Linked DNA regions of Homo sapiens. The protein of the gene in region 5 interacts with the protein of the main gene of each other region in a pairwise test. Each region holds a gene or a part of one and is shown on either strand. Other genes may lie near its edges. The genes, in order: GJC3, LSMEM2, TM4SF19, YKT6, STX7, ANKS6 and FAM174A.

Region 1 (4,780 bases), on a different chromosome or scaffold from region 5:
TAATAAGAGTTTGAGAGTAACATGAGGGGGTAGGGTTTTTTTAAGTTGATGAAAATGTTATTAAATTGGTAGTGTTGATGGATATACAACTCTGAATATACTAAAGGCTATTTAATTGTATACTTTTGTCACTGGTAGAGGATAGTGACTGCAAGTTGTCCAGGTTCTTGGCGTTTTGAACAAGGAATTGGACAAAACTCCTAGCAAAGCAAAGAAAGGATGAAGCAACAAAAGAACGAAAGCAGGGATTTATTGAAAACCAAAGTACACGCCACAGTGTGGGAGCAATCCGAGCAGCGGTTCAAGGGCACGGATACACAATCTTCTTGGGTCCCAGTACCCACTAGAAGTTTCCCTTTGGCCAGTTCATGCTTTGCAGAAAGCAACCAATCAGAGGCTAGGAAGAAGTTACGAAGTTGCAAAGGAAGACTCATCTGCAAACAGCCTGATTTGTTGGGGACAGGCAATTTCCCATCTGCTGCACAGAAAAGGTGGGGGTGTTGCAAAGGGAGTAGCCTCTGGTCCTTGTGTTACTTAGGCAAGGAAAGTTAGAGTTTTCCTTTCAATTTAGTCCTAGGAAGTTGGCGTGAAACAGCCTTAGGTTCCCTTCCTCCAGAACCTATTCTCCTGCCTCACTTTAAGTGGATAAATTATATGGTGTATGAATTATATCTCAATAAAGCTGTTTTAAAAGGGGGTGGTATAAGGAAGAATTCCAAATGATGCTATTTGCGTTTTTCCTTGGTCACTTTGGCTGGGCTCTGGCTACAGTGGATGAGGGATTCTTATGAAGCACTTGTGTAGCAGGAAGAAAAAAAAAATTTCCTAGCTATTGCCAAAGCATCCCTTGGGATCCCCTAACTTACTTGGGGATAATTTGGGATTCAGAAAGAGAAAAAAAAATAGATAACTGCCTTTGTTGAGAATTTCAGGGCAAGAGAAAACTAAGAAAAGAGGGCAGCGTTCTGTTAAAAAAAAAAAGGGATAGAACAACACTGTCCAACAGAAATGACTAAGAGACTCGAGAAGACTGATATTCAGATTGCAGTTACCCGCCGAATCACACTGTGATGTCAGCCTCCCTTGCTGTTACTCCCAAATCAGCATATCAGCAGTAGAACTCTACTGCTTTTTCTGTGTGGTATTGAGGGTTATGAAATTAAAGAGTAGGAACTTGGTCCAGCATGAGTTGCTGCAGTTCTGGAGACAATTGTAACAAGCTGCAACGAGAACTGCAGAAATGAAGAATGAGAATTGAGCAGAAATCAGAGCTATCAGTGATCAAGGGGGCCTAAGCCCCTGAATTCACAGTAATTTTCCTTAAGGATATGGCCGGGTATTTGGATAAATCTATAGATATTAGAGGACACTGACTTATATATGCTTGAAGCCCAGAGTTTCTGGCTTATGACATGTGCTGCAGGTCTGAGGGGCATTCATTTACAAAACTTTGATGATAAGGGGAGCAGAGAATGTGGAAAAACAGAAAAGAGGTAAATGAAGCCAGTGAGACAGGAAGGGGCATTATCTTCAGCAACAGGAATGCCAACAGCAGTCATCAATATTTATTGAGCAGGACAGGGGAGAGACACAGTTTAGGGAGGCTTCTCCCGGCTGACTCTTGAACCAAGCCCATAAAAATTGTGATGCTGACACCAGAAAATTCCAGTGAAAAGGCACAGTCAGGAAATGCTTTAGACTACATGGCCCAAGGGGCCCTTAGAGATCCTTCAACAGCCTCTAATTTGTCACAGACATGAATCCCCACTCACTGGATGTTGGAAAGAAGATTCAATCACAGAGTTTCCTTCAGGCAAGTCAGGTGTCTTTATAACTCTGCAAAGTAGAGAATCAAGAAGAAGCTGAGATTTTTCCTAAGTGGAGAGAGACCTAAATGGAAGTTCAGGAGGGACAACGGACTAGCACTCTTGTCCTTGTTCGCTGGAAGGAACCATCAAGTTGATGGGGATGGACATTGGGATAGATTTTGAGAGCAAGAGAGAACAAAGAAAAGGGTTGGGAGTGGCGGTCAGAACACATCTGCCTAGAACCTGGTTACCTACTTTGTAACATGCAGAAGTTGTACTTCCCAGAAAGGTGAGGGACCTGCCCCGGGAGGAGATCATCAGGACACAAACATCAGTGACAGGAAGAGAGCGTGTCCTTCTCACCTGCTTCTTGAAATTGCTCTTTGGTTTCCACCACTGGGAGGCTATCGGTTGCTTTCTTGTGTCTTCTGGTGCTCTCTGAAGTTAGGAAGTATTTAGAAGAGGAAGATTTGTGCTTCCAGGTCCTCCACCATCTCCCCAAACCCAGAAGCACAAGCTCCAAAAAAGTAAACAAGAGACAGAAACCGCTGACTCCAAACATGGTCTTTAGGAAAATGGTCTTCTCAGAGGGGCGGGACAGATTGCAGGTTATACTACCAAGGCAAGGTTCTCGGCGACATGCAAAGGAGCTGGGCATCTGGAACCCATACAGGTGGTACTGCAACCCCAGGGCTGCCCCCTCCAGGACAAGCCGAGCCCCCAGCTGAGCCACATAAGCCCAGAGCAGCCTGAGGCTTCCAGCCCCTGGGACATCTGTGTTGCCCTCCCGTCCCTGGATCAGGGTCTCCTCCTCCTTCCCCTTTCCTGATAATTCCCAGTGCCAGATCACGTGATACAGAGTGAAACCCATATAGAGGGCGCTGGGTACAGCCACCAAGATGACCTGGAAGACCCAGAAACGCAGCGGGGAGAGGGGGTGGAAGGCATCGAAGCAGGCAGCCTTGCAGCCCGGCTGCTGGGTGTGACACACGAATTCACTCTGCTCATCACCATAGACTCCAGGCCCACTGGCAGCCAGCAGCACAAGGCGGAATCCCAGGAGCACGGGAAGCAAGAGGCGCCCCACGGGGGTGGAGCGCCGGCTCTCCTCCGCCAGCAGCCGCCGCAGGAACCTGCCACACATCCTGTTTTGGAGCAGAGGACAAGAGATCAGTGTTGTTCACTGTCCTTCAGAGGGAGCTCCAGTCCACCTTGTCACTCCTAATCCAAGGATCACTGAAGGCAAGCTTTTTTATTCCTCTCCAAGTATCTGACTGATTAAATACCAAGACTCTGATTGCACCTCTTTACTACTTAATGAAATCATCTATGTAAAATAATAACAGTGAGTGTGTGTGGTGTGGCTCTCTCTTCTGCCCTCCCCTTCTGTACTGCTGGAGTGGAGAGGAACTCTCAGGTTGGAGAGACCAGGATACATCTTCATCTCTCTCTTTCCCTCCTTCCCTCCGTCTCTCTTTCCCAAAGGCTGAACGTAAGAGAGTAGACTGGGATGTTTTGTTAATTTTCCTTTGAAAGGTATTGCTTCCCCAGCTGATGGCTGCCAGGCCTGGTGCTCCTACAGCATCATCTTAAGCAAATTAGTGCTGATGCTGAGAGGGAATGTGCATTCTCTTGCGGTCTTCTTTTCTCTTCCTCCATGCCCTTGGATGATCACAGGTGTGTCTGGATGTCCTCTTCTCCCATCACAGTGGTAAAGTTGAGAGGTAGTTAGGTTATGGGGCTAGATGTGATGGATGAAATGAACAGAGCAAGCATCGAGGCTTGCTTTAGTCTGATGCTCTTAGGCCTTACAAGCTGAGGAAGAAGAGAACATTTGGAAGGTAACCCAGCAGAATTTACCAGAATTACATACTATAGGATTTGGGGCCAGAGCCAGAACTGACTAGATAGAAATTCAGATTTTTGACCCCCACTTGCCATTGTTCCTTGGGCATATTATCTCCCTCATGGTGACAGGCGACCATGATCAAGGATAAGTTTCAGAAATCCCTCTGTTCCCCAGCCAAAATACCACAATGCTACAAGCCCAAGTTCACCATCTCTATATTTGTCCTAATCAGCTGCCTTCCCCAATGCCCAGCAGCTGTTTCAAACCGTCCCCATTTAGCCTAAATTCTCACTCATCTGGTTACCCTCACACTCAGAAGACCATGTGGTATGGTCTGAATGATGATCAAGATGCATATGCTAGAACCTAATACAGTAGTCCCCCCTCTTATCTGCGATTTCACTTTCTACAGTTTCAGTTACCCACAGTCAACAGAGGTCCAAAAATATTAAATGGAAAATTCCAGAAATACAAAATTAATGTTTTAAATTGTGTGCTGTTCTGAGTAGCACTATGAAATCTCACACCATCCCACCCAGGATGTGAATCATCCCTTTGTCCAGGGTATCCAACGCTGTAGACGCTCCTTGCTGGTTTGTGACTTAATCGCCATTTTGGTTATCAGATCAACTATCAATACTCGTTCAAGTAACTCTTATTTTACTTAAGAATAGCCCCAAAAAGCAAGAGTAGTGATGCCAGCATATTGTTACAATTGTTCCAGTTGTTCTATTTCTTTTTTTTTTTTTTTTTTTTTGAGACGGACTCTCGCTCTGTCACCAGGCTGGAGTGCACTGGCACGATCTTGGCTCGCTGCAATCTCTGCCTCCCAGGTTCAAGCAATTCCCCTGCCTCAGCCTGCTGAGTAGCTGGGACTATAGGGGCGCACCACCACGCCGGGCTAATTTTTTGTATTTTAGTAGAAACAGGGTCACTATGTTGGCCGGGATGGTCTCAGTCTCCTGACCTTGTGATCCACCTGCCTCGGCCTCCCAAAGTGCTGGGATTACAGGCATGAGCCACCATGCCCAGCCACAATTGTTCTATTTTCTTAGTAGTTATTGTTGTTAATCTCTTACTGTGCTAATTTGTAATTAAACTTTATCATAGGGATGTACATATG
Region 2 (4,566 bases), on a different chromosome or scaffold from region 5:
CATGAAGTCAGGAGTTCAAGACCAGCCTGACCAACATGGTGAAACCCTGTCTCTACTAAAAATACAAAACTTAGGTGGGTGTGATGGCACGCGCCTTTAATCCCAGCTACTCAGGAGGCTGAGGTAAGATAATTGCTTGAACCAGGGAGGCAGAGGTTGCAGTGAGCCGAGATCGCCCCACTGCACTCCAGCCTGGGCAACAGAGCGAGACTCTGTCTCAAAGAAAAGAAAACTGGGTGATGTGGAAAAGAATGTACACAGAAGGCCTCACTGAAGGGGTGGCATTTGAGTTCGCTGACAAGACGGGGCTGGCCACAGGGCTATCTGGGAGCAGAGCATTCCAGGAGGGAACAGCCACCACCAAGCCCCTGAGGTGGTAACAAGCTTGTTGACTTTGAGGAACATCAGGGAGGCCAGTGTGAGACAACGGAGTGACAGGTTTGAGGTGTGTAGGAAGTAGAGCCCACAGTCTTGCTTTGCCCCCACTGGGAAGGAAGGGCACAGGGATCCAACCACAGAGGGAAAGCTGGAAGCTGGACCACCTCCTCCTTTCAAGGTAAGCAGTGATGCGCATCCTTACACAACCTTATGGGACCTGTCTGCCCTTGTGGAGATGGGAGCAGGGGAAGACCAAAACCGTGGATTGTGCTAAATGCTCCAGATGTTGTTCTCAGTGTACACTGCCAGGGAGGAGCCACTGTTATTCCGACTTTACACATGAGCAAACTGAGTTCAGAGAGGGGAGACCCTTTACCTAAGGTTGCAAGCTTAGTAACAAATGAACCAGCCTCCAACCTAGGTCCACCCACTGGCCAGCATGGGTGCTGTTGGTGTATCTGCCCACTTGTGAAGCTATCAGAGCCCTCATGGCATTGGGATTCAGTTGTCCATCACCCTCTATAAGACACACACAACAATAGCATTGTGTGCTAGCAGGTCATGCAGTGGAGGCTGCTGTGTTTGCTGGGAGGAGAGATGACTGGGCTGTGGGTAGGAGTCTGCAGGGGTAGAGGGGTGGCCAAATAGAGATGCACAGGCTTCCTTTGTCTGTCTTGGCTGCCACATGGGGCCTTGCTGAGCCTGGAGTGGCCATTCTGGATGTATGGGGGAGGTGTGCTTCCCCTTGAAGGTCCCTGGGCACCTGGACTAGTGGAGGCAGGCTCCTGGCTGGCTCCCTCACCAGGTAGATAGTTCAGGCTGGCCCACGTGGATCACTCTGCCCCTTCCCATGGCTGAGGGCTGCCCCCTCTAAATATAGCCCAGTGGGCTGAGCTCAGGCCTATTTTAGGCCAAGGCTGGGAGGCAGCCAGGCCTTCCCTGGGCTCACAAAGGAGCCACTGCTGCATTTGTCCAGTCCTGCTACTGGATGCCATCATTGGCCCCCGACTGCCCACTGCTTGCCATGCCTGAGGAGACCCAAGAAGGTAGGAGAGGGTGACCATGAGGGAGGGCAAGGCCTCAGTCCTGTGACCTTGTGGACCATGGAGAGACCCACCCTCTGTCCCACTGACCTCACTGTCTTGAGTAGTTAGTTACCCATTTTCATGCTCCAGCTCCAGTAAAAGGACCTGCCCCCTGTGCAGGGAGGAAAAGCCTGCCATGCCTGGAGCCCCTTGTCACCTCAGGCCCTGCTTCAGTTTCCCCTGCTGGGGACATCAAGGAGGGATGGGAGAAGCTACCCAGTTAGGAGTGGGTCAACTACAGGCTGTGCTCAGGTGGGTGTGGGCATCCGGTCAGCTGCCTGGCCGGTTCAGCTCTTAAGGAAGGAAGCTGGGATTGGGGTGGGTAGTGGTTCCAGAAAGCATTTGGGTACCTGTCCCATGGACTGAAAAGTAGTTAGGCCTCTGGCCTCCCCTGACTTGGGTCTAAATATCCCCAACTGCCTAGGGTTGGGGGTCCCTTGGCCTGGTCAGACAGAGACTCAGCTAGTCAAGAGCTTGGTGGCCACTCACCTAACTGCACCACTGCATATAAGAAGTACTGATGCTCAGAGGGGCCAGGGCAGCAGGAATCTAGGAAGCTACAGGTCCAGTACTGGCCAGGACGTAGGACTGTCTGCTCCATGGCTCCATGTTATGGCCCATGACAGAGCATGGCCCAGCTAGCAAGCTCCTCTTATCACATTTTCAACTTTTTTTTTTTTTTTGAGATGGAATCTCGCTCTGTCACCCAGGCCGGAGTACAGTGGCGTGATCTCGGCTCACTGCAACCTCCGCCTCCCAGATTCAAGCAATTCTCTGCCTCAGCCTCCCAAGTAGCTGGGATTACAGGCGCCTGCCACCATGCCTAGCTAATTTTTGTATTTTTAGTAGAGACGGGGGTTCACCATCTTGGCCAGGCTGGTCTTGAACTCCTGACCTCGTAAGCCACCCACCTCAGCCTCCCAAAGTGTTGGGATTACAGGGGTGAGCCACCGCGCCTGGCCTCAACTTTTTTTTTTTTTGTCACCCAGGCTGGAGTGCAGTGGTGCGGTCTCGGCTCACTGCAACCTCTGCCTCCCAGATTCAAGCTATTCTCCTGTCTCAGGCTCCCAAGTAGCTGGGATTACAGGCATGTGCTACCATGCCCGGCTAATTTTTGTATTTTTAGTAGAGACAAGGTTTCACCGTGTTGGCCAGGCTGGTCTCAAACTCCTGACCTCAGGTGATCCACCCACCTTGGCCTCCCAAATTGTTGGGATTACAGGCGTGAGCCACTGCCAACATTTTCAACATTGCAGGAGAGGGGCCTTGCCCCTGGTAGGGGGAAATGTTTACTTTCATGCATGTGTGTGTGTAGAGAAGGGTCTCCCTGGTCTTGAACTCCTGGCCTCAACCAATCCAATCCTCCCACCTTGGCCTTTCTTTTCTTTTTTTTTTTTTTTTGAGATGGAGTCTCGCTCTGTCGCCCAGGCTGGAGTGCAGTGGCGCGATCTCAGCTCACTGCAAGCTCCGCCTTCCGGGTTCACGCCATTCTCCTGCCTCAGCCTCCTGAGTAGCTGGGACTACAGGAGCCCGCCACTACGCCTGGCTAATTTTTTGTATTTTTAGTAGAGATGGGGTTTCACTGTGTTAGCCGGCATGGTCTCGATCTTCTGACCTCGTGATCCACCCACTTCGGCCTCCCAAAGTGCTGGGATTACAGGTGTGAGCTACCGCGCCCGGCCAGCCACCTTGGCCTTTCAAAGTGCTGGGATTAGAGGCATAAGCCACTGTGCCTACCCTCTTTTGGGATCTTAACAATAACATTTACTGTGTGTTTTTCCTGTAATAAACAATTCACATTCAATTTAGAAAGTGTGAGAAAAGCACAACAAAGTACAAAGAGGGAAATTTTTTTTTTTTTTTGAGACAGAGTCTTGCTCTGTCGCCCAGGCTGGAGTGCAGTGGCACGATCTTGGCTCATTGCAAGCTCTGCCTCCCGGGTTCATGCCATTCTCCTGCCTCAGCCTCCCGAGTAGCTGGGACTACAGGCGCCAGCCACCATGCCCAGCTAATTTTTGTTTTGAATTTTTTAGTAGAGACGGGGTTTCACTGTGTTAGCCAGGATGGTCTCGATCTCCTGACCTCGTGACCTGCCCACCTCGGCCTTCCAAAGTGCTGGGATTACAGGCATGGGCCACTGCGCCCGGCCCTTTTTTTTTTTTTTTTTTCTGAGACGGAGTCTTGCTCTGTCGCCCCGGGTGGAGTGCAGTGGCACGATCTCTGCTCACTGCAACCTCTGCCTCCCAGGTTCAAGTGATTCTCCTGTCTCAGCCTCCCAAGTAGCTGGGACTACAGGCGCCTGCCACCATACCTGGCTAATTTTTAAATATTTTTGGTAGAGACGGGGTTTCACCATATTGGCCAGGCTGGTCTCAAACTCCTGACCTTGTGATCCACTTGCCTTGGCCTCCCAAAGTGCTGGGATTATAGGTGTGAGCCACTGCGCCCGGCAGCAGGGAATTTTTTTTTTTTTTTTTTTTTTTTTGGAGATAGGGTCTCACTCTGTTGCCCAGGCTGGAGTACAATGGCATGATCACAGCTCACTGCAGCCTTGACTTCCTGGACTCAAGCAACCCTCCCACCTCAGCCTCCTGAGAAGCTGGGACCACAGAAGCATGCCACCACACCAAACTAATCTTTAATTACTTTTTTGTTTTTTGAGACGAGGTCTAGCTCTGTCGCCCAGGCTGGAGTGCAGTGGCTTGAGCTTGGATCACTGCAAGCTCCGCCTCCTGGGTTCAAGCTATTCTCCTGCCTTCAGCCTCCTGAGTAGCTGGGACTACAGGCGCCCATCACCATGCCCGGCTAATTTTTTGTATTTTTAGTACAGATGGGGTTTCACCATGTTGACCAGGCTGATCTTGAACTCCTGACCTCGTGATCCGCCCACCTCAGCCTCCCAAAGTGCTGGGATTACAGGTGTGAGCCACCATGCCCGGCCCTAATCTTTGATTTTTTTGTAGAGATGGGGTCTCCCTACGTTGCCCTGGCTGGTTTCAAACTCTTAGACTCAAATGATCCTCCTGCCTTGGCCTCCCAAAGTGCTGGGATTACAGGCATGAGCCACAGTGCCCGGCCCAAAGAGAGAATTTAATATGACCTT
Region 3 (4,027 bases), on a different chromosome or scaffold from region 5:
TGTGTTATAGGCGTGTCAAGAGCCTCAAGTGGCCAAGTGCAGTGGCTCACGCCTGTCATCCTAGCACTTTAGGTGTCTGAAGTGGGAGGGCCCTTGAGCCAAGGAGTTTGAGACCAGCCTGGGCCACATAAGGAGACCTCACCTCTATTACATTTTTTTTTCTTCTGAGACGGAGTTTCACTCTTGTTGTCCAGGCTGGAGTGCAGTGGCGTAATCTCGGCTCACTGCAACCTCCACCTCCCGGGTTCAAGTGATTCTCCTGCCTCAGCCTTCCGAGTAGCTGGGATTACAGGCATGCGCCACCACGCCCGGCTAGTTTTGTATTTTTAGTAGAGATGGGGTTTCGTCATGATGGCCAGGCTGGTCTTGAACTCCTGACCTCAGGTGATCTGCCGGCTTTGGCCTCCCAAAGTGCTGGGATTACAGGCGTGAGCCACTGCACCCGGCTAAAAATAAATTTTTTTCAATAAAAAATAAATAAATAAATTAAATAAATAAATAAATAGCGAGCCTTAAGGGGAGACAGACGTGTAACTGAACTGCACAGTGGGAACAGGCCACTTCCTGGGGATGTCATGACGCTGACTTTTTTCAGATCCACATTGACATGAGTCTGCCCAAATATTACTAGTCCTATTTTAATTCATATATATATGTATATATATATATTTTTTTTTTAGATAGAGCTTCACTCTTGTTTCCTGGGCTGGAGTGCAATGGCACGATCTCTGCTCACTGCAACTTCTGCCTCCTGGGCTCAAGCGATTCTGCTGCCTCAGCCACCCGAGTAGCTGGGATTACAGGTGCCTGCCACCACGTCCAGCAATTTTTTTGTATTTTTTAATAGAGACACGGTTTCACCATGTTGACCAGGCTTATCTCAAACTCCTGACATCAGGCGATCCACCTGCCTTGGCCTCCCAAAGTGCTGGGATTACAGGTGTAAGTCACCGTGCCCGGCCTTAATTCATATTTTTCTAAAAAACAAGAAGTTCACATATCAATGAAAATATAAAAGAGAGGAACATAAGGAGTGGAAGAGGCATTTTATAATTTATCTAGATATGACATTTTAATTGTAATTAGCTTTATTGATATATAGTTAAAATTCAATAAAATTCACCTATTTTAAGTGCAAAGTTTAATGAGTTTTGTCAATATGTACAGTTATGTATTCACCACCAGAATCTAGACACAGAATGCTTCCACCCCTTCAGAAAGCTTCCCATGCCCCATACTAATCCTCTTTCCCATTCTCAGCCCATGGCAACCGCTCATCTGCTCTCCGTTAAAAGTTTTGCCTTTTCTAGAATTTCGTATATATAGAAACATGTGAGTAGTCTTTTGTTTCTGGCTTCTTCCACTTAACACAATGCTTTTGAGATTCATCCATGTTATATGTAGCAGAAATTTACGCATTTTATTACCTAATAGAACTCATTTGTATGGATAACACAATTTGTCTTGATTCACCTATTGATTACTGATAAGGATTTGAGTAATCACAAATTTTTTAATTGATTTTTTATTGTGGTAAAGTAACATCAGATTTGTCATTTTAACCATTTTAAAGTGTATAATTCAGTGACATTAATTACATTTGCAATGATGTGCAACCATTACCATTATCTATTTCCAAAACTTTTCTTCACCCCAAACAGAAAGTCTGTAACCCTTAAACCGTGGGCAGTGGCCCAGATCTGGTCATAGCTACTCTGGAGGCACGGGCTGGAGGATCATTTGAGTCCAGGAGTTGAAGACCAGCTGGGGTAACATAGTGAGACTGCATCTCTAAAAAAACCCCAAAACCACCGCGCGCGGTGGGAGGCCGAGGCGGGCAGATCACCTGAGGTCAGGAGTTCAAGACCAGCCTGGCCAACATAGTGAAACCCTGTCTCTACTAAAAATACAAAAATTAGCCAGGCGTGGTGGCACATGCCTGTAGTCCCAGCTACTTGGGAGGCTGAGGCAGGAGAATTGCTTGAGCCCAGGAGGCAGAGGTTGCAGTGAGCTGAGATTGCGCCACTGCACTCCAGCCTGGCTGACAGAGCAAGACTCTGTCTCAAAAAAAAAAAACAAAACAACACAAAACAAAACCTGAAAACCTCTGTAACCATTAAACAATAACTCCCCATTCTCTCCTCCCTCCCCACAGTCCCTGATAACCTCCAGTCTACTTTCTTTCTCTATAAAGTTGTTATTTTGAATATTTCATATAAGTGGAATCATACAATATTTGTCCTTTAGTGTCTGGCTTATTTCTTTTAGCATGATTTTTTTTTTTTAGATGGAGTCGCTTGCTCTTGTCGCCCAGGCTGAAGTGCAGTGGCGCGATCTCAGCTCACTGCAGCCTCTGCCTCCTGGGTTCAAGCGATTTTCCTGCCTCAACCTCCGAGTAGCTGGGATTATAGGCAAGCACCCAGCTGACATTTAAATTTTTAAGCAGTCTGATTAATCATGTTTTGTGGATTGTACTTTTTGCATTTTAGTAAGAAACCTTTATCTAACCCAAGGTCCCAGTGTTTTTCTCCTTTGTTTTATTCTAGAAATTTTATAAAGCTTTTAGACCCATGCTCCATTTCAAGTGAATTTTTGAATATGTTGTGAAGTAATAGTGAAGGCAGTTTTGTTTTGCATGTGCATTGTTCCGGCACCATTTGTGGAAGAGACTTTTTCCCGCTGAATTGTCATCTTCTTAAAAAATCATTTATTGGCCGGGCGCGGTGGCTCATGCCTGTAATCCCAGCACTTTGGGAGCCCGAGACAGGCGGATCACGAGGTCAGGAGATCAAGACCGTCCTGGCTAACACGGTGAAACCCCGTCTCTACTAAAAATACAAAAAATTACCGGGCATGGTGGCGGGCACCTGTAATCCCAGCTACTTGGGAGGCTGAGGCAGGAGAATCGCTTGAACCTGGGAGGCAGAGGTTGCAGTGAGCTGAGATCGCGCCACTGCACTCCAGCCTGAGCAACAGAGCGAGACTCCGTCTCAAGAAAAAAAAAAAATCATTTTTCCTGGACCGGGTCTGTTTCTGAGCTCCAGCCTGTTCCAGTAGTCCATATGTGTTTCCTTACGCGTGGCTTCAGTGTCTTCAATTACTGTAGCTTTGTAAGTCTTGAAATCACATGGCGTAAGTTCTCCAGCTTTGTTTGTTTTTCAGAATTGCTTTGGCTAATCTTCACAATTGCTTTGCATTTCCATATAAATTTAGATTCAGTTTGTCAATTTCTATAACAAAACTCTCCTAGGATTTTGACTGATATTGCTTTAAATCTTTGCATCAATTTAGGGAGAACATGTTAACTATTTTGAGTCTTCTGGTTCAGGAACATGGTATATGTCTCCATTTATTTAGGTCTCCATTAATTTTCTCAGCAATGCTTTGCAATTCTTACTATATAGGTCTTGCAAATATTTTGTTAAATTCATCCATATGTATTATATTTTTATGCTATTGTAAATGATATATTTTAATTTCAATCCTCAATTTGTCATTGCTTGTATATAGAAATACAATATAATTTTTGTATATTAATCTTTTATTCTATGACGTTGCTAAACTCACCTGTTAATTCTAATAAACTTTAGGATTTTCTACATAATGTGATCACATTATCTGTGAATAATAACAATGTTACTTTTTTTTTTTTTTAAGATGGAGTCTTGCTGTGTCACCCAGGCTGGAGTGCAGTGGCATGATCTCAGCTCACTGCAACCTCTGCCTCCCGGGTTCAAGCAATTCTCCTGCCTCAGTCTCCCCAGTAGCTGGGATTACAGGCACCCACCACCGTGCCCAGCTAATTTTTGTATTTTTAGTAGAGACGGGGTTTCACCATGTTGGCCAGGCTGGTCTTGAACTCCTGACCTCGTGATCCGCCTGCCTCAGCCTCCCAAAGTGCTGGGATTACAGGCCTGAGCCACCATGCCTGGCCGACAATATTACTTCTTTCTTTCCTATCTGTGTGGCTTTTGCTTCCTTTTATTTTCGTATTGCACTGGCCAGGACCAGTACAACGTTGAATAGA
Region 4 (4,027 bases), on a different chromosome or scaffold from region 5:
GGCTGGGCATACTTTTGATTCTCAGAATATTTAGGATATGTTTTAATGATAAAAATTTGGAAAGAACTTTAGCCTAGATTTTCTCTGTTGCCATTATATGTCCCCCTCATTCCTCCTTCCTGGGCTGTGAAGGCCAAGGAGCCTCATTCAGGGTGAGGTGCTCAGGGGTGAAGCCCTGTCATTGAGACCACTGGTGAGTGCACAGTGGGAGGCTTGTTGAGTCTCCTTTGTCTTGCAGGTACTAGATGAATTCTCCAAGCAAGTCGACAGGATAGACTGGCCAGTAGGATCCCCTGCTACAATCCATTACCCAGCCCTGGATGGTCACCTCAGTAGATACCAGGTAGGGTTAAAGGAAGCTTCAGCAGACACCATGTGGCCCAGAATCCATGTGAAACTGAAAAAGCCAACTGCCCTGATAGTTCTGGTCTAATTACTTCTGACAGCTTCTGATGCTGGTGTCCTCTCTCAAGCCTTACTGTTTGGAAAACAGAGAATCTACGTTCAGACCGGGGAACCCAAGCTCTAGGCAGGCTTTGGGTTTCTGTTACATGTTAAACAGGCTGTGGGTTTTTTTTTTTGTTTTTTGTTTTTTGAGTTGGAGTCTCACTCTGTTTCCCAGGCTGGAGTGCAGTGGCGCAATCTCGGCTCACTCAACCTGCACCTCCTGGGTTCAAGCGATTCTCCTGCCTCAGCCTCCCGAGTAGCTGGGATTACAGGCATGTGCCACCACGCCTGGCTAATTTTTGTATTTTTAGTAGAGACGGTTTCACCATGTTGGTCAGGCTGGTCTCGAACTCTTGATCTCTGGTGATCCACCCGCCTCATCCTCCCAAAATGCTGGGATTACAGGCGTGAGCCACTGTGCCCGGCCCAGGCTGTGGTTTTTAACCTGTGAAAGTTTGTCCAGCTTCCTCAGTTTTAGGTTTTGTTTGCAGGTAGCCACTCCAGTCCTGACTTTATTATTTTTCACTCTTTCCTAGAACCCACGAGAAGCTGATCCCATGACTAAAGTGCAGGCCGAACTAGATGAGACCAAAATCATTCTGGTAAGCAGGAAGATGGAGAGCAAGCCCAAGAACTGAGGCGGGGGTGCGATTTCCACTGGCCAGGCATGCACAGATCCATCCTCGTTTTAATATAATAGTAACCACGGCACTCTCCAGCAAGTGGGATTGCCCACCCCTTCCCCCACCCCGGGCATCAGACTGTCTTTCCTATACCCTTCTCTTGGTTAATGGCACCCATTGTTTCTAGGGGACCAAGCTGGGAACCAGTGGAACCCTCAAGTCTCCCTTCCTCATGGCTACTGCCTGTCTGACCATTTACTGGGTTCCTAGGGTTTGGCTTCTGAAGACCTGGATTCCCACCCTGGTGCCTTTGTTAGGGTTTCGGGTGCCTCCACACCCCACAGGTGCCTCCCCTTGCAGCGTTTGCATTGAAGGTGAACAGATTGAAGCACCGTGCACTGACCACAGGGCAGCTTCTGGAATATGGGCCCAGGGTTGTCACATAGGCCCCTTTGAAAAGAGCCAGAACCCTGCATTTTGAGCTGAAATCTCCTGATTTGTAACTGTTGCTTCAACTCTTTTTTTTTAAATTTTTGCATACAAGTGGAATGTAAGCAGCTATCTGTTTTTCTCAGGTTTTTCTCTTACAGCCTTTGCCTCTAAGTGGTCCCCTTGCCTCCTGCTCACCTCCAGTCTGTCCACCAGAGAGTAGTCATTGATCTGCACAACTTAGAACCCTTCAGCAGCTCTCAGATCCGCCCCAGGATAAAGTGCAAACTAACTCACAGTCTCCTGACTGGGCCCTGTTCTCTCTTATACCCTTTCTTGCCCAGCTCACACACAGGCGCCTGAAGGTTGGGCCTTTCTGACCAGATGTCACAGTTTTGTCACTGCTTGTTTACATGTCTCCCTGACCAGCGTATGAGCACTGGGACATCTTTCCATCCTGCTCATGATACAGTGCCTAGTTTATACCATGCTCAGCAGTTGATAGATACCTGGAGTGGATTGAAACCCACATACAAAGCTTTACCATTTACACAGGCATAGCTTTAGTGTGTACATCAGCGTCTCCTGGGGTTGGAGTTGTTGGCCTGCGATGGAGCCTGGGAACCTGCATTTTATAAAAAGCATCCCAGGGGCTTCAAACACAGGTGTGCTGACTGCACTCCAAATAACGTGGCTTTGGAATGAACGATAGATGTGAAAGTCTCATGGTATCTGTGTCTTTTGAAACCTTGTGAGCTTTCTTACCACCTAGGTGGCATTTCTCCGTTTTCTCCTCAAGCCATCTCTTTCTGTTGCTCAAGTCCTAGTCTGAGTACCATGACACCTGGGACACCCGCTGTTTCTCCTCTCCCCACGGTGGGGAGTGGATGAGTCCTATTCACCCAGCCTCATCTAGCTGCAGTTGTAAAATCTAGATGATTGGTGTGCATATCTGAATCAGTTAACTTTCTGTGTTAAAAATTTGAGTCGCTCAGCTGTGTGTAGGGATGAAGGACATTCTTGCTGGCTCCTTGTTCTATGGCGCTTCATGTGTGCATCTAGCTGCTGCAGCAGTGGCCATCTGAGGAGAGAAGCGAGCTGCTGCTTCCTGAGGGCCCTGGCAGCAGAGCTGCTGGCTCTTGTGAGGTCTCCATCTCTAGACCCCTTCCCATGGGGTCAGTGTTTTCATTTCCTAAGTCAGAGTTTGTAGTGATGACATTTAGGACATAGCCCATTTAGAAGGCAGGACATGTTCTGTCATAGTGCTGTCTGGTATATATTTGGGGCATGTGTGTAACTTAGAATTTTCTAGGAGCCATATTTTAAAATGATAAAAGGAAAATAGGTAGAATTTAATTTAATTATATATTTTACTTAACGCAGTATATCCAAATACAATTTTTCCAACATGTAATCGGTATAAAACTTGTTTTTTTTTCAGTATAAAACTTACTAATGAAGCATGTGTGAGTTTGCATCTGAAATCTGGTGTGTCTGTACTCAGAGCGCTGCTCAGTTTGGACTTGCCTCACATCAAGTGCTCAATAGCCATTTCCCACCGCCTTTTGTTTCCTGTGGCTGCTGTCAACAGAAACCCTCAAATATTTGCTTTTAACAGATAGCTCTGTGGGCCTGGCTGGTGTCTTTTGGGGCTCTGAGTGTCTGTCCCAGGCCTCTCTCCAGCCTCTGGTGGCTGCTGGCCATCCTTGGCATTCCTTGGATTAGAGGTGCATCACTTCAGGCTCTGCCTCTGCCGTCACGTGACCTTCTGTGTGTGTGTTTCCGTTTCTTACCAGGACATCAGTCATGGAATTAGATGCCACCCTAATCCAGTATTACCTCTTCCTAACTAGTTACATCTGCCAAGACCCTATTTCTAAATATGGTCACATTCAGAGATTCTGGGGATGTTAATTTCTGGGATGCGGTTGGGGTTGGGGGGTGCGGTGTGGGTCACTCTCCAACCCAGTACAATCATATAGTGCCCAGCTACTCTTTTTTCCAAAGCTCCATGCACACGCACATGTGCGTGCACACACACACACACACACAAATGTATATATAAATGTGTGTGTATATATATATATGAGTTTTCCTGGAGTGCTGGTTATCTAAGCCTGTGCTGGGGACAGCTTTTTGGGAAGTCTGCTACATCCCAGTTAGATCTTCTAGATTTCACGGGAATGTCACCAGGTTCTGTTCCATCCACTTGGACAGTAACTATTCTTGGACCGAGTCTCGACACCTAGAGGTGAAGTTTGTGTGTGTTGGAGAGGAACCCAGGTAAGGCACTTTCCCCCATGACTGAAATATGAGGGGCTCATGTCAGGGCACGTACTGAACAGAGCTGGATTCTCTTTTCTTTTTTGTCCAGCACAACACCATGGAGTCTCTGTTAGAGCGAGGTGAGAAGCTAGATGACTTGGTGTCCAAATCCGAGGTGCTGGGAACACAGTCTAAAGCCTTCTATAAAACTGTGAGTACCCAGCACCTGCTGCCTCCTGGGTGTTCTCTCTAGAGAGCAGTCG
Region 5 (4,027 bases):
GAACTTTTTCTAGCACAGGGATCCCTCATCTTGCTTTTGATGACCATACCCACTTCACTCCCATCCCTACTCCCTTCTTAACCCTTGGCAACCATAATCTGTTCTCCATTTTTATAGTTTTTTTTTTTTTCATTTCAATAAAGCTGTATAACTGGAATCATAATAATATGTAACCTTTTGGGATTGGCTTTTTTTCATTTAGCATGATTTTCTGGAGGTTAATCCAGCTTATTATGTGTATCAAGTCTATTGACAGGTACTTTTTAGTGTGAATAGAATCCCATAGTATAGATGTACCACAGTTTGTTTAACTGTTCACCTGCTGAGAGACATTGGGCCAGTTTTTGGCTACTATAAATAAAGTTGCTATAAACATTTGTGTACAAGTTTTTGTGTGAACATAATCTAGTTTTCTGGGTCAAATGCCCAGCAGTTATATAGTAGTTGGGTCATATAGTAGTTGAATGTTTAGTTTTTAAGAAATTGCCAAACTTATACCAAGTAGCTGTACTATTTTATATACCCACCAGTGGTGTATGAGTGATCTAGTTGCTTCATGTCCTTTTCAGCATTTGGTGGTGTCTCTTTTTTATTTTAGTCATTCTGATAAGTGTATAGTGACAGCTCATTGCAGTTTTGATTTACCATTTTCCCTTCGCTAATGGCAATGATGTTGAGCATCTTTGTTTCATATGCTTATTTGCCACCTGTATCTCTTCTTTAGTGACATGTTTCTTCATGTCTTTTCTAATTGGATTTTTTTTCTGTTGAGTTTTGAGGGCTTTTAAATAATGTGTGTGTGTGCCTCTGTGTGTGTGTGTGTGTATTTTTTTCTAGATACTAGTCCTTTGTTGGATGTGTGATTTGCAAATATTTCCTCCCAGTCAGTAGCATGTCTTTTCATTTCTCTTTTCTGGGCCTTTCACAGAGCAGAAGTGTTTAATTTTGATGAAGTCCACTCTATCCATTTTTCTTTTTATGGATCATGCTTCTGGTATCAAGAACTTTGCCTCTCTCCTTAGATCCCCCAAATTTTCTCTTTTATGTTGTTTTCTAAAAGTATTATAGTTTACGTTTTACTTTTAAGTCTATATTCCATTTTCAGTTAATTTTGTATAAAATGTGAGACTTAGGTCTGGGTTCATTTTTTTTGTTGTTGCCTATGGATATTCAATTACTCCAACATGATATTTGTCGAAAAGGCTCTTTTTTGTCCATTGAATTGTTTTTGCACCTCTGTCAAAAATCAGTTGAGCAAAAATGAGTTAATGAGAAATCAGTTGGGCACATTCGTGTGGGTCTATATCTGGGTTTTCTATTCTTTTCCATTAGACTATGTGTCTATACCTCCACCAACACCAAAATCTTGATTACTGTAGTAAGTCTTGAAATCAAATAGGCTGGTTTATTCCACTTTCTTTTTCAAAATTGTTTTAGCCACTTAGTTCCTTTGTCTTCCCGTATAAACTTTGGAATAATCTTGTCTGTATCTATTCAAATATCTTACTGGGATTTTGACAGGAACTATGTTATACCTATACATCAATTTGGGGAGATTTGACATCTTTACCATGTTAAGCCTTCCCGATCATGATCACAGGATCACTTCACTTCATTTCAGTTAAATTTTGTTTTCCTTCATCAGTATTGTGTGGTTTTCAGCATACAAGGTCTGTACATGTTTTGTTAGATTTATACCTAAGCAATTTAATTTTTGAGAGAGATTGTAAATGGCATTGTATTTTGAATTTCCTGTTCACATGTCTATTCTAAGTACATAGAAATAAAGTGAATTTTTCTATTTTGTATACTGAGACCTTATTGAGCCCACTTACTCATTTTAGGGGATTTTGATTGATTCCTTGGGATTTTTTTTTTATATAGATAGTCATGTCATCTGCAAATAATGAATAGTTTTATCTCTTCATTTCTGACCTATATTCCTTTTTTTTTTCCTTTCAGTCCCTTAATGCAGTGGGTAGAAATTCCAGCAGAAATAAAAGCAGTGAGAGTAGAGATCCTTGGCTTGTTTCTGGTCTTAGGCAGAAAGGATTCAGTGTTTCACCATGAAGTATAATGTTAGCTGTAGGTTTTTAAAGTAGATGCTCTTGCTAAAGTTAAGGAAGTTATCTTTTATTCCTTTTTTTCTGCAAGTTTTTATTATGAATTTTATGTTGAATTTTGTCAAATGCTTTTTCTGCCTTAATTTACATAATGCCATTTTTCTTCTTTAGCCCATTCATGTGGTAGATACATTGATTGATTTTTGAATGTTGAGCCATTGTTACATCCCTGAGATAAACTCCACTTGGTCGTGGTGTATCTTTGTATATATAGCTTAATTCTTTTGGCTAATATTTTGTTAAGGATTTTTGCATCTGTTTTAATGCGACATACTGGTTGGTGGTATCAGGGTAATACTAGCTTCAAAATGAACTGGAAAGTATTCCTTTCTCTTCTGTTTTCTAAAGCGGATTGTATAGAATTGGTGTCAGCGCTTTTTAAAACATTTGATAGAACTTTCCAATGAAATCATCTGGGCCTGGAGATTTTGGGGGAGGGAGTTCTTTTTATTGTAATTTCCACTTTTACAATAGTTATATGGCTGTTTAATTTATCTATTTCATATTGAGTTGTGACAGTTTGTATTTTTAGATGAATTAGTCCATTTCATCTAAGCTCTCAGATTTATATGTAGAGTTTTTGGTTGTATTTTTTGTTAGACTTTTGATGTCTGATATTCCAAAACTCCTTCATTTATCATTTCCTTTCTGTTTAGAGCACTCCTTTAGCCTTATTATTATTATTGTAGTTCCATTGGCAACAAATTCTCTCAGTTTTCTTTCATCTGAAAATGTCTTGATTTTCCCTTGATATCTGAAGAATATTTACATTAGACATAGACTTGTAGGTTTATAGTTCTTTTCTTTCAGCACTTGAAAATTGTTCTGCCACTTCCAGCCAAGAGGGGTGGCTCACGCCTGTAAGCCCAGCACTTTGGGAAGCCAAGGCGGGCAGATCACTTGAGGTCAGGAGTTTGAGACCAGCCTGGCTAACATGGCGAAACCCCGCCTCTACTAAAAATACAAAAATTAGCCGGCATGGTGGTGCACATCTGTAATCCCAGCCATTTGGGAAGCTGAGGCAGGAGAATCACTTGAACCCGTAGGCGGAGATTACAGTGAGCTGAGATCGCACCACTGTACTCCAGTCTGAGCAACAGAACGAGACTCCTTGTCAAAAAAAAAAAAAAGGAAAGAAAATTTCATGGTTCCCCATGAGAAATCCAGTTTTTTAAATTGTTTTGGTCCCTATAGATAGGTGTCATTTGTCTTTTTTCTTTTTCTTTTTTTCCTTTGTGTTTAGTTTTTAGTTGTTTAACCATGATGTATCTTGTAGATTTGGGGGGTTTATTATATTTGAGGTCTTCTCACCATCTATATGTTTATGTCTTTTGCCAATTTTGGGGAGTTTTCAGCTGTCATTTTTTTCAAGAACTTTTTCAGTCTTCCTTCTTTCTTCTTTCTTTTGAGACTCTGATGACACAAATGTTAGATTTATTGTAGTTCCGTAAGTCCCTGAGGTTCTGTTCATCTTTGTTCTGCCTGTTTTCTTCTGTTGTTCAGACTGTGTAATTTCTATCATTTTATCTTCAGATTTATTCATTCTTTCTGCAGTAGCTTCCATTCTGCTATTGAGCCTATCAATTAAGTGTTTCATATTGATTCCTGCATTTTTCAATTTTAAAATTTCTGGCCCTTTACCGAAAATGTTGGTTGACCCCTGGAGTATAAACCTATACTATAGAAGAGAGTATCAATTTTTTTTTTTTTGAGAGGATCAATTTAAACAAAAGTTGGTCTCTTTAAATAAATAAAGTACACATAACTTGGTGAAACCGATTTGGAAAAAAACAGAAGACATAAAAAATTTAGGAATGAAAGTACAGATAAATAACCAAACATAGATTTTAAAATAATAAGACACTATAAACAACTTTATGCCAATATATCACAAAACAGAAAAT
Region 6 (3,550 bases), on a different chromosome or scaffold from region 5:
CTGGAGCCTCTGCTGTCCTGTCTGCAAAATGGGAATAGCCCCGCTCTGTCCAGGGTCATCCAATGAGTTCATGGAGGTCTACATTTGTGAAAAGGTGACCCCCCGGTGCAGCTGTGTATCATTGTTCAATCAAACTTACCTGAGTGGAAGCTATACCAGTATATTGTTATGAAAAAAACAGGACCACAGCAAAAAGCAGGCACAAAACCTCAAAGCACATAACGTCAGGGGCCATGAATTTCAGAGGCAAACAATTCTAGGCCTACTGTTAACCCCTGAAGCCATCAGTAAATTAAAACAAGAATCACAAGTGCTTCTAGCTCCAGGAGTCTATAGGAGTTAGTGGAAAAGGCACAGGCTTGCAAGCCCACCAGGTCCGGTTCTGACCCCAGATCTGCTCCTTCTGGGCTGTTTAACTGGCAAGCTGCTTCCCTCTCCTAAGCATCCGTTTCCCGAATGTGCAAGATGAGGTTACACAATGCCACCTCCAGGGTGGCCATGAGGATGAAATGACAAAGGTAAAGCTGCCAGCACATAGTAGGGGATGAATGAGTGTGTCTCCTTAAAAAGGCTGGGACATTAGTAACCTTTGTAAAGGTGTCTATCAGTAACAGCTAAATGAAACACTTTGTCTTCAGTCCTGTGGAAAGTTGGCTTCTGTGAGTGTAAGGCTGAGAGAATTTAAAGGAAAAACACCCAACCATCAGGGCAGGGGAAGAAAACTACGAGGCTCTGGGCAGTAAGTTAACGACAGCCTCTGAAAGCCAGCATAGGGGAATGGGCTTTCATGGCTGGGGGAGGGACAGATGAGAGATGGCACCTCCCAAGGAGACCAACTTGTGGCTCAGCATGGCTCAAGGTAGAGATCAGAATTCTGTGCAGCCTACCATCGACTGGGTACTTCCTGCAGACCCAGCACTTTGGGCATACTGGTTCTAAGCTCCAACTAAGAGGCCATTGAGCTTCATCTGAACTTTGAACCTGAGTCCAGAGCACAAGGTCTGCCCACTCTACCATGCTGCCTCTCAATGTCGGGACCATCTATTTACAGGTGTTCTCTTGCCTGTCGAGAGCCTGAAGGCTCTGTATTGTGTCTGCACACTTGGCACCTGGTAGCTAACATAAATGCAACAAGCACTGGCTGAATGAGTCATTCACTGGAAAACACTTCAGAAAGCCAGTGGGTTTTAAAAGTCAGGGCCCCTCTAATTTAATAAAATATGATATGGTAGGAAACTACACAAGCCAATTCCCTTTTGAGGAACACAGCATTAATAGGATGTAGACAAAATTCCAAATTTTCACTTCTTTGCCTAGAAACTTTGAGCACCAGAGACCTTTACACAATGTGACCCATTAGCCTTCTGCTTCCACTTTCAGTGCAGAAAGCCCTGCAGTGATACAGGTGAGCACTGTGGAGTACCAGAGCATCATCTGGTCTGACCTTCCACTTTGCAGATAAGGAAACTGAAAGCTAGGAAGAAGAAGGGATCCACACAGCAGGCCTCCACTTCTTTCCTTCTATAATAGACTCTCTTTGCAATAAAGAAAAATGCGTTTGACATACACATCTCCAATGTAAGCTGTATGCAGCAGGTGCAGTGGAATGCTACAGCAGTCACATACACAGCACTAAGGGACCCAGTGGCTGAAAGGGGGTCAAAAAAGACTTCATCTGAGAGGTGACTTGGACTAGGAGGGGCAAGTTAGAAGTTTTAAGGGAAGATGTGCCAGGAAGGCTAACCTCTCACCATAATACATACCCCCCATCTAAGTCAAAAGTTGTTGCTGGGAAGCCACTATGTGGAGACTGCACATCCTGGCCTCCTCTGCATCCAGGTGGGGCCACATGACTACCAGTGGCCAAGAGGACGTGAGCAGGAGTGATGTGTGTCAGTTAAGAGCAAGGCAGGTAAGAAGCAGCCGTGCCTTCTCCATCGTCCCTTTCCCTTGCCGCCAGCCAGAAGCAAACTCTGAGGCTCCCGGGGAGGGCAGAGCACAGGATGAAAGGAGCTGAGTCCCTGCATCACTGTGTGAACCAACCTGCCAAGCAGAAGCACCCCCACTGGACTGTTACATGGGAATCTGTCTCTGTGTGTTGAAGTTTGTTGCAGCAAGAAGTACTACCAATGAATGCCGTCGACGTGAAGTGGGCATCCCGAGCAAAGGGAACAACATGACTAAGGCACAGCAGTGTGACGGGGGCAGGGCTGGGGCTGTGGCCACGTGAAGGGGTCCCGGGATTCAGAGAGCTCACGCTGGTGGCTGCGGGAAGGAGGATCACGCACAGGGGCTGTTGCCAGGGGCCCTGGTGTTGCTGGCACTGCTCTCAAAGGAAGAGTGAAAGTTGTGAATGGTTTCCTGTAAAATTTGTCTCTCGCGTCCCTGTGGAGGAAATTGAAAACAGACACAGAAAGTCTTATTAAACCTTTTAACCATTAATTCAATTGACACAGTGTTGTTAATGTTCAACTCATACTTCAAAAACCCATGGGCGTCTTGGGGAAAATAAATTACCTAACTGAAAGAGTACCGAGTTCAATAAAAACATACTGAGTCAGAATCTCCCCAGTACCCACCATCGCAGCCTGTCAATGCTGGAGAGGCCCTGGGATGCAGGACCCCAAACCCCTGGACAGAGTGGGAGGCCGAGTCCGGGGCAGGACTGACTTCTCCCGAGTCGCACGGCCCGGATTCGAGGTCTCCTTTCCTGCGCCTCTGTGCATCTTTCCAGTCCTTAGATTTCCAGATAATTCAATGGGAGCCAAGTGTCCTTCTGCTACAGGATAAGAGTTTAAACTGCCTTTGCTTCCCTTTGCCCAAAAGCTGCCGGATTTGTCTTCACAGAGATTCACTTCTCACTCTATTCCTACAACGCCCCCTGCCCCCTATACACACATTTTCAGATGAGAAAAGAGGGTGGATGTGAATGTTCTGTTAAGCCCAGAAAACATCATCACTGCATTCCAGGCTCGGAGGCAGCAATACTCAGAGGTTAAGAACAGAGACTGCGTCCTAGCCAGAGCAATCAGACAGGAAGTCAAACTGTCGCTGTTTGCTGATGACATGATCGTTTACCTAGAAAACCCTAAAGACAGCTCCAGAAAGCTCCTAGAACTGATAAAAGAATTCAGCAAAGTTTCTGGATACAAGATTAACGTACACAAATCAGTAGCTCTTCTATACAACAACAGTGACCAAGCTGAGAATCGAATCAAGAACTCAACCACTTCTATAATAGCTGCAAAAAAATAAAAAAAAAAAATACTTAGGAATATACCTAACCAAGGAGGTGAAAGACCTCTACAAGGAAAACTAGAAAACACTGCTGAAATAAATCATAGATGACACAAACAAGTGGAAACACATCCCATGCTCATGGATGGAGAGAATCAATATTGTGAAAATGCCCATATTGTCAAAAGCAATCTACAAATTCAATGCAATTCCCATAAAAATATCACCATCATTCTCCACAAAATTAGAAAAAACAATTCTAAAATTCATATGGAACTGAAAAAGAGCCCGCGTAGCCAAAGCAAGAATAAGC
Region 7 (4,027 bases), on a different chromosome or scaffold from region 5:
TCATGAAGAAGCTAGGCAAGAAATACTCAAGGAGGTAAGAAGAAAATCAGAAGAGATGTCTCAGAAGTCAAAGTAAGAACCAGTGCACTGAGTGCTACAGAAAAGGGGAAAATATCCATGAAACTGAGACAATGTGCTTATTAACCATCTTCTGCATGAGTAATTCTAGAGTGGTAGAATTAGAAGCCAGACTACAAAAAGCATAAGAGAGAATGAAAGGCATGGAAATGGGAACATTTCAATGGAAAATCTCTCTCCTGTCCTATGACAAGAGCTTTATTTAGATTCCCTCCTTAATGTCTTCTTAGGTATCTTCCTTTCCCATATCTTCAATATTTCCTTCTGTACTTGCTCTTTCCCCACTAATGGCATTTAAACAAGACTGGATAGTTCATTCTTAAATGGACCCCTTTCTACAGCTCTCATCCAATACTTCTCCCTGCCTGCACAGTTAAGAGTGAAATGAAATATATCCAAGCAGAAAAGGTCAACTGAAAATAGATTCAGTTACAGGGCAAGTTTGTAAAAGATTTATGCTGATTAGAGATAAATATTTAGTCTTCTACAAAAATATAATAGTTTTTGTTATGTTATGAAGTGGCTTTTCAGATGGCTTTGTCTAACAGGAATGATATTTAAGAGCAGCCTTCTCCAAATAGCTTCAGCTCTTGCTGCCACATTCCCAAAAGTTTAGTTTATTACCACAAAAAGCAGTGGTACTCCTTCACTAGATAAGCTCCTTGAACACAAATATGATGTCTTTATTATCTTTGAAGCCCTAATATTCAGAAGTTTGAGAGATATAACAGTCATTCAAATTTATCAGAAACAGATTTGTGTGGGCTTAAAGGTGGCCCATATGATAACTTGTCAAACTACTTTACATAGTCCACATTCAGCATTGTCCTACAAATCTCCTGAGCCAGGGTGTCATACAAGCAAATGGCTATTGATGTGGTGAAGCAAAGATCTCCTCAGCTCTTGAGATCACTAGGCAGTGTCTAAGGTGGATAGTATCAGGGCAGGTAGTCTCATACATTTACCCCGTATAGATATCAATGTCTATATGTGGCATTACATGAGCAAGCATTGCTCTGGCCTCAACGCCCCCAACAAACTAGTACATCTCCACTTTTACCTCCCAGAACTGCACACATAACAAATATCACTTAAAAACAGAGCATTCTATTATCACTTCACTTATGATATGATAATCATATCAGGGATTATGATCCCTGACATATCAGTTATGTCATCATCTTGGTATTTTGGCACTTGACCACATAGCAAACTAACTTGACACTTTAAAATATTTTAGGTGTATGAGTAAACATTTTGTGAAGGGAAGTTTCACCTTTGCAAAAAAATATTCATTACTTGCGAACTAGTACTTGTTAAATACATTTCCAAGTTTCTGGGTCTCTTTATATAGAAAACATTTGATATACACTGACTAGCTAAATAAATAATGGCAAACCAGGACAATTTACACATGTTAGGAAAACTCCACTTTCCAAGGAGATATGAACAATTATAATGGAAGTTCCATGAATGCAGGGACTTTCCTTGTGCACTACTAACCCTCATCACAGAGCTTAGTAATGGCACCCAATAGGTGGTAAATAATATTTACTGAATTAGTGACAGTCACTAAATACATAAATGGTTAAATAGTCAAAAGTACTCCTGGTTTTGCTTAAATTAAGTGATTTCTATGGATGTTTTATAATTTTGTAAATAGGGCTGGTACCACAAGACTTCTAGGAGAAAAAGAAAACAACTCATATTCTTAAGTAACCAGACAAAAGAGAAATGGTGATTAAAGTCACATGCATAAATCATTAGTGACTTGCTCCACTAAGGTGGAAATATGTGTGACCATATTAACAGACGTTTCTTTAAAATATTACCATTCCCTGACTATGTGTAGTAAATCAGGAAAATCTTTGGATGAGGGAAGGAATGCAGGGAGTTGAGGTAGGAAACAAAATTATTTCACCTTGGCACAAATATGATGATCAATAAATGTTAACTCACTTTTCAAAAAGGTAAAATTTGGAGGTTTAACATCCAACAAAATCATGTGTTTTAAACAGAAAGGCACTGGGCATATACTATCCACTTTATTTTTCTCCATAAATAAGCTAGCCATCTTTATGTGCAATATCGCTTTAAATTGGTTACTTTAAATGATCACAGGAAGCAGCATGATGGTTGAACATGTTAGGTAAGTTCCAGCAGAGCTGGGTTTGGGCAGGTCCTGTATGTGCACGCTTGGGCAAGTTATTTAAACTTGCTCAGCCTAAATTTCCTCAGTAAGAATGATATTACCTACTTTGAAGGTTTTTGCAAGAATTTCAAAATGCACATAAAGTATGCGGTATTATATCTGACACATAAATTATCAATTAACTATCAGCTATTAGGATGATAAGTAAAAGCTCAAAAATAATCTTTCAGTTACAAAGTATGGTTCTTTGAAAAAACCTAACGTTGTGTCTTAGCGTATAGGGTTGGGTAAGCATTCAAATTAAATTAATATTCTTTATTTCCTATATAATATGTATTAATAGGATCTGCATTTTAATGCCTTTTCATAGCATCCTTTATGTACTTATCTATGTGATTATTTGGTTAATGCCCCTCTGCTCCTCTAGTATATAAGTGTTATAGAAGCAGAAATGTTTGTTTTGCTCAAAACTGTATCCCCAGTGCCCAGTACTGGTCAGTTGAATAAATATTGACTGCTTAAATAAAGGCTATCATAATAAATTTCATGCTCATCTCCACTATATGAGCATGAGCACCATATTTTCTTGAAATTGGAAGAGACTTGCTAAAGAGCATAGAGATTTTTTTTAAAAAAAGTAGAGGGTTAAACTTTTAAGCATCGATTTCCTTCCAATATACCAAATTGAATAAAAAACGAAAAACCAACGACATGGCATGAAAAAGGAAATAATTCCCTGCTTTTAAGGCAAGAATCATTATTCAGCTATGACAAAAATTGCTTTATATAATTACCATACGTGCTAAAACCAACAACCATCTACAGTGATTTCCCCCCACCCCCGCTCCCTGGCCTTATACATTTTACTGTGGAGAGAATGTCCTACTGAGAGGAAGGAAATAAAAGTATTAATTGAGATCTTCGCAGTTCTTTGTTCCGTCAGTAAACAGCAATTATCCTTAAATTTCCAAATCCTTACCACCTACCTGTTCAGCAATATAATACATGAAGAGTGCTCATCCATTAGGCAACTGCTTATTCAGTGCCCATCATATATTGCACATGATGTTTAGCACTGAGGATATAGGGGAGAATAAGACAGAAAAGTCTCTTTTCATAGAGATTAAGTGTTCATTTTAGGCAATCTACTTTGTCCCTACCGTGTTCCTTGCATATATATATATACACTTACATATATATATATATGTTTTGTATTTCTACAGTGAGAACCTGACTGTTCTTTGGAATGTTTCCAGACTCAAAAAGGAAGTTATTATTACCTACATATTCATTATAAATGAATTAGATAAAAACAAAACTATTTGAAAGTCTCATGTAGTTCAATGTAATAAAATTTTACAAGTAAAATATTTTCTGCATCACCTCAAATCAGTTAAGAAAATAATGATTTTGGCCCATTCTTCTCCCTTGGCACAAATAACTAATTTCAGTGCACTGTCACACATAGTTTGAAAATGGGAGCCAAAATGAGCATTCACCAAGATAATGAAGAAAACCATAATCTGGAAGCAAAAAGTATGAGTTCGGAACACTGCCCAGACATTGTTAGCATCATTCAAGCTTTGGATGCCAGGCAGCCAACTAAATGTAGGACTTGGACTGCATGAATATGTTAGATGCTGGTTAAAGAATGCACTTTTTATTAGCCATAGTTCAGAATTTGGCTGTTAACACACATCATGTTACCAAGTCATCCAATAGGATCATATTGGAAGGACTGTATCTGTCCAAGTTTTACAACATTAATGACAGAAAATCAATGGTAATAAATATGTG

The links.
Region 1: the proteins of STX7 (region 5) and GJC3 interact in binary tests that used the Homo sapiens proteins (3 or more experiments, as listed by UniProt).
Region 2: the proteins of STX7 (region 5) and LSMEM2 interact in binary tests that used the Homo sapiens proteins (3 or more experiments, as listed by UniProt).
Region 3: the proteins of STX7 (region 5) and TM4SF19 interact in binary tests that used the Homo sapiens proteins (3 or more experiments, as listed by UniProt).
Region 4: the proteins of STX7 (region 5) and YKT6 interact in binary tests that used the Homo sapiens proteins (3 or more experiments, as listed by UniProt).
Region 6: the proteins of STX7 (region 5) and ANKS6 interact in binary tests that used the Homo sapiens proteins (3 or more experiments, as listed by UniProt).
Region 7: the proteins of STX7 (region 5) and FAM174A interact in binary tests that used the Homo sapiens proteins (3 or more experiments, as listed by UniProt).

Annotation. Positions count from the first base shown.
Region 1 is NC_000007.14:99,926,669-99,931,448, forward strand, and holds the start of GJC3 (gap junction gamma-3 protein precursor), read right to left. Parts: upstream 2,953-4,780; coding exon 2,172-2,952; intron 1-2,171.
Region 2 is NC_000003.12:50,277,748-50,282,313, forward strand, and holds the start of LSMEM2 (leucine-rich single-pass membrane protein 2), read left to right. Parts: upstream 1-1,339; 5' UTR 1,340-1,366; coding exon 1,367-1,424; intron 1,425-4,566.
Region 3 is NC_000003.12:196,327,927-196,331,953, reverse strand, and holds part of TM4SF19 (transmembrane 4 L6 family member 19), read left to right. Parts: intron 1-4,027. UniProt on the Homo sapiens protein: Negatively regulates vacuolar (H+)-ATPase (V-ATPase) activity by interacting with members of V-ATPase V0 complex and hence inhibiting V1-V0 complex assembly. Required for multinucleation during osteoclast differentiation.
Region 4 is NC_000007.14:44,207,150-44,211,176, forward strand, and holds part of YKT6 (synaptobrevin homolog YKT6), read left to right. Parts: intron 1-238; coding exon 239-343; intron 344-983; coding exon 984-1,049; intron 1,050-3,873; coding exon 3,874-3,975; intron 3,976-4,027. UniProt on the Homo sapiens protein: Vesicular soluble NSF attachment protein receptor (v-SNARE) mediating vesicle docking and fusion to a specific acceptor cellular compartment. Functions in endoplasmic reticulum to Golgi transport; as part of a SNARE complex composed of GOSR1, GOSR2 and STX5.
Region 5 is NC_000006.12:132,450,328-132,454,354, reverse strand, and holds part of STX7 (syntaxin-7), read left to right. Parts: 3' UTR 1-4,027. UniProt on the Homo sapiens protein: May be involved in protein trafficking from the plasma membrane to the early endosome (EE) as well as in homotypic fusion of endocytic organelles. Mediates the endocytic trafficking from early endosomes to late endosomes and lysosomes.
Region 6 is NC_000009.12:98,734,239-98,737,788, forward strand, and holds part of ANKS6 (ankyrin repeat and SAM domain-containing protein 6), read right to left. Parts: intron 2,386-3,550; coding exon 2,281-2,385; 3' UTR 1-2,280.
Region 7 is NC_000005.10:100,537,918-100,541,944, reverse strand, and holds part of FAM174A (membrane protein FAM174A precursor), read right to left. Parts: intron 1-4,027.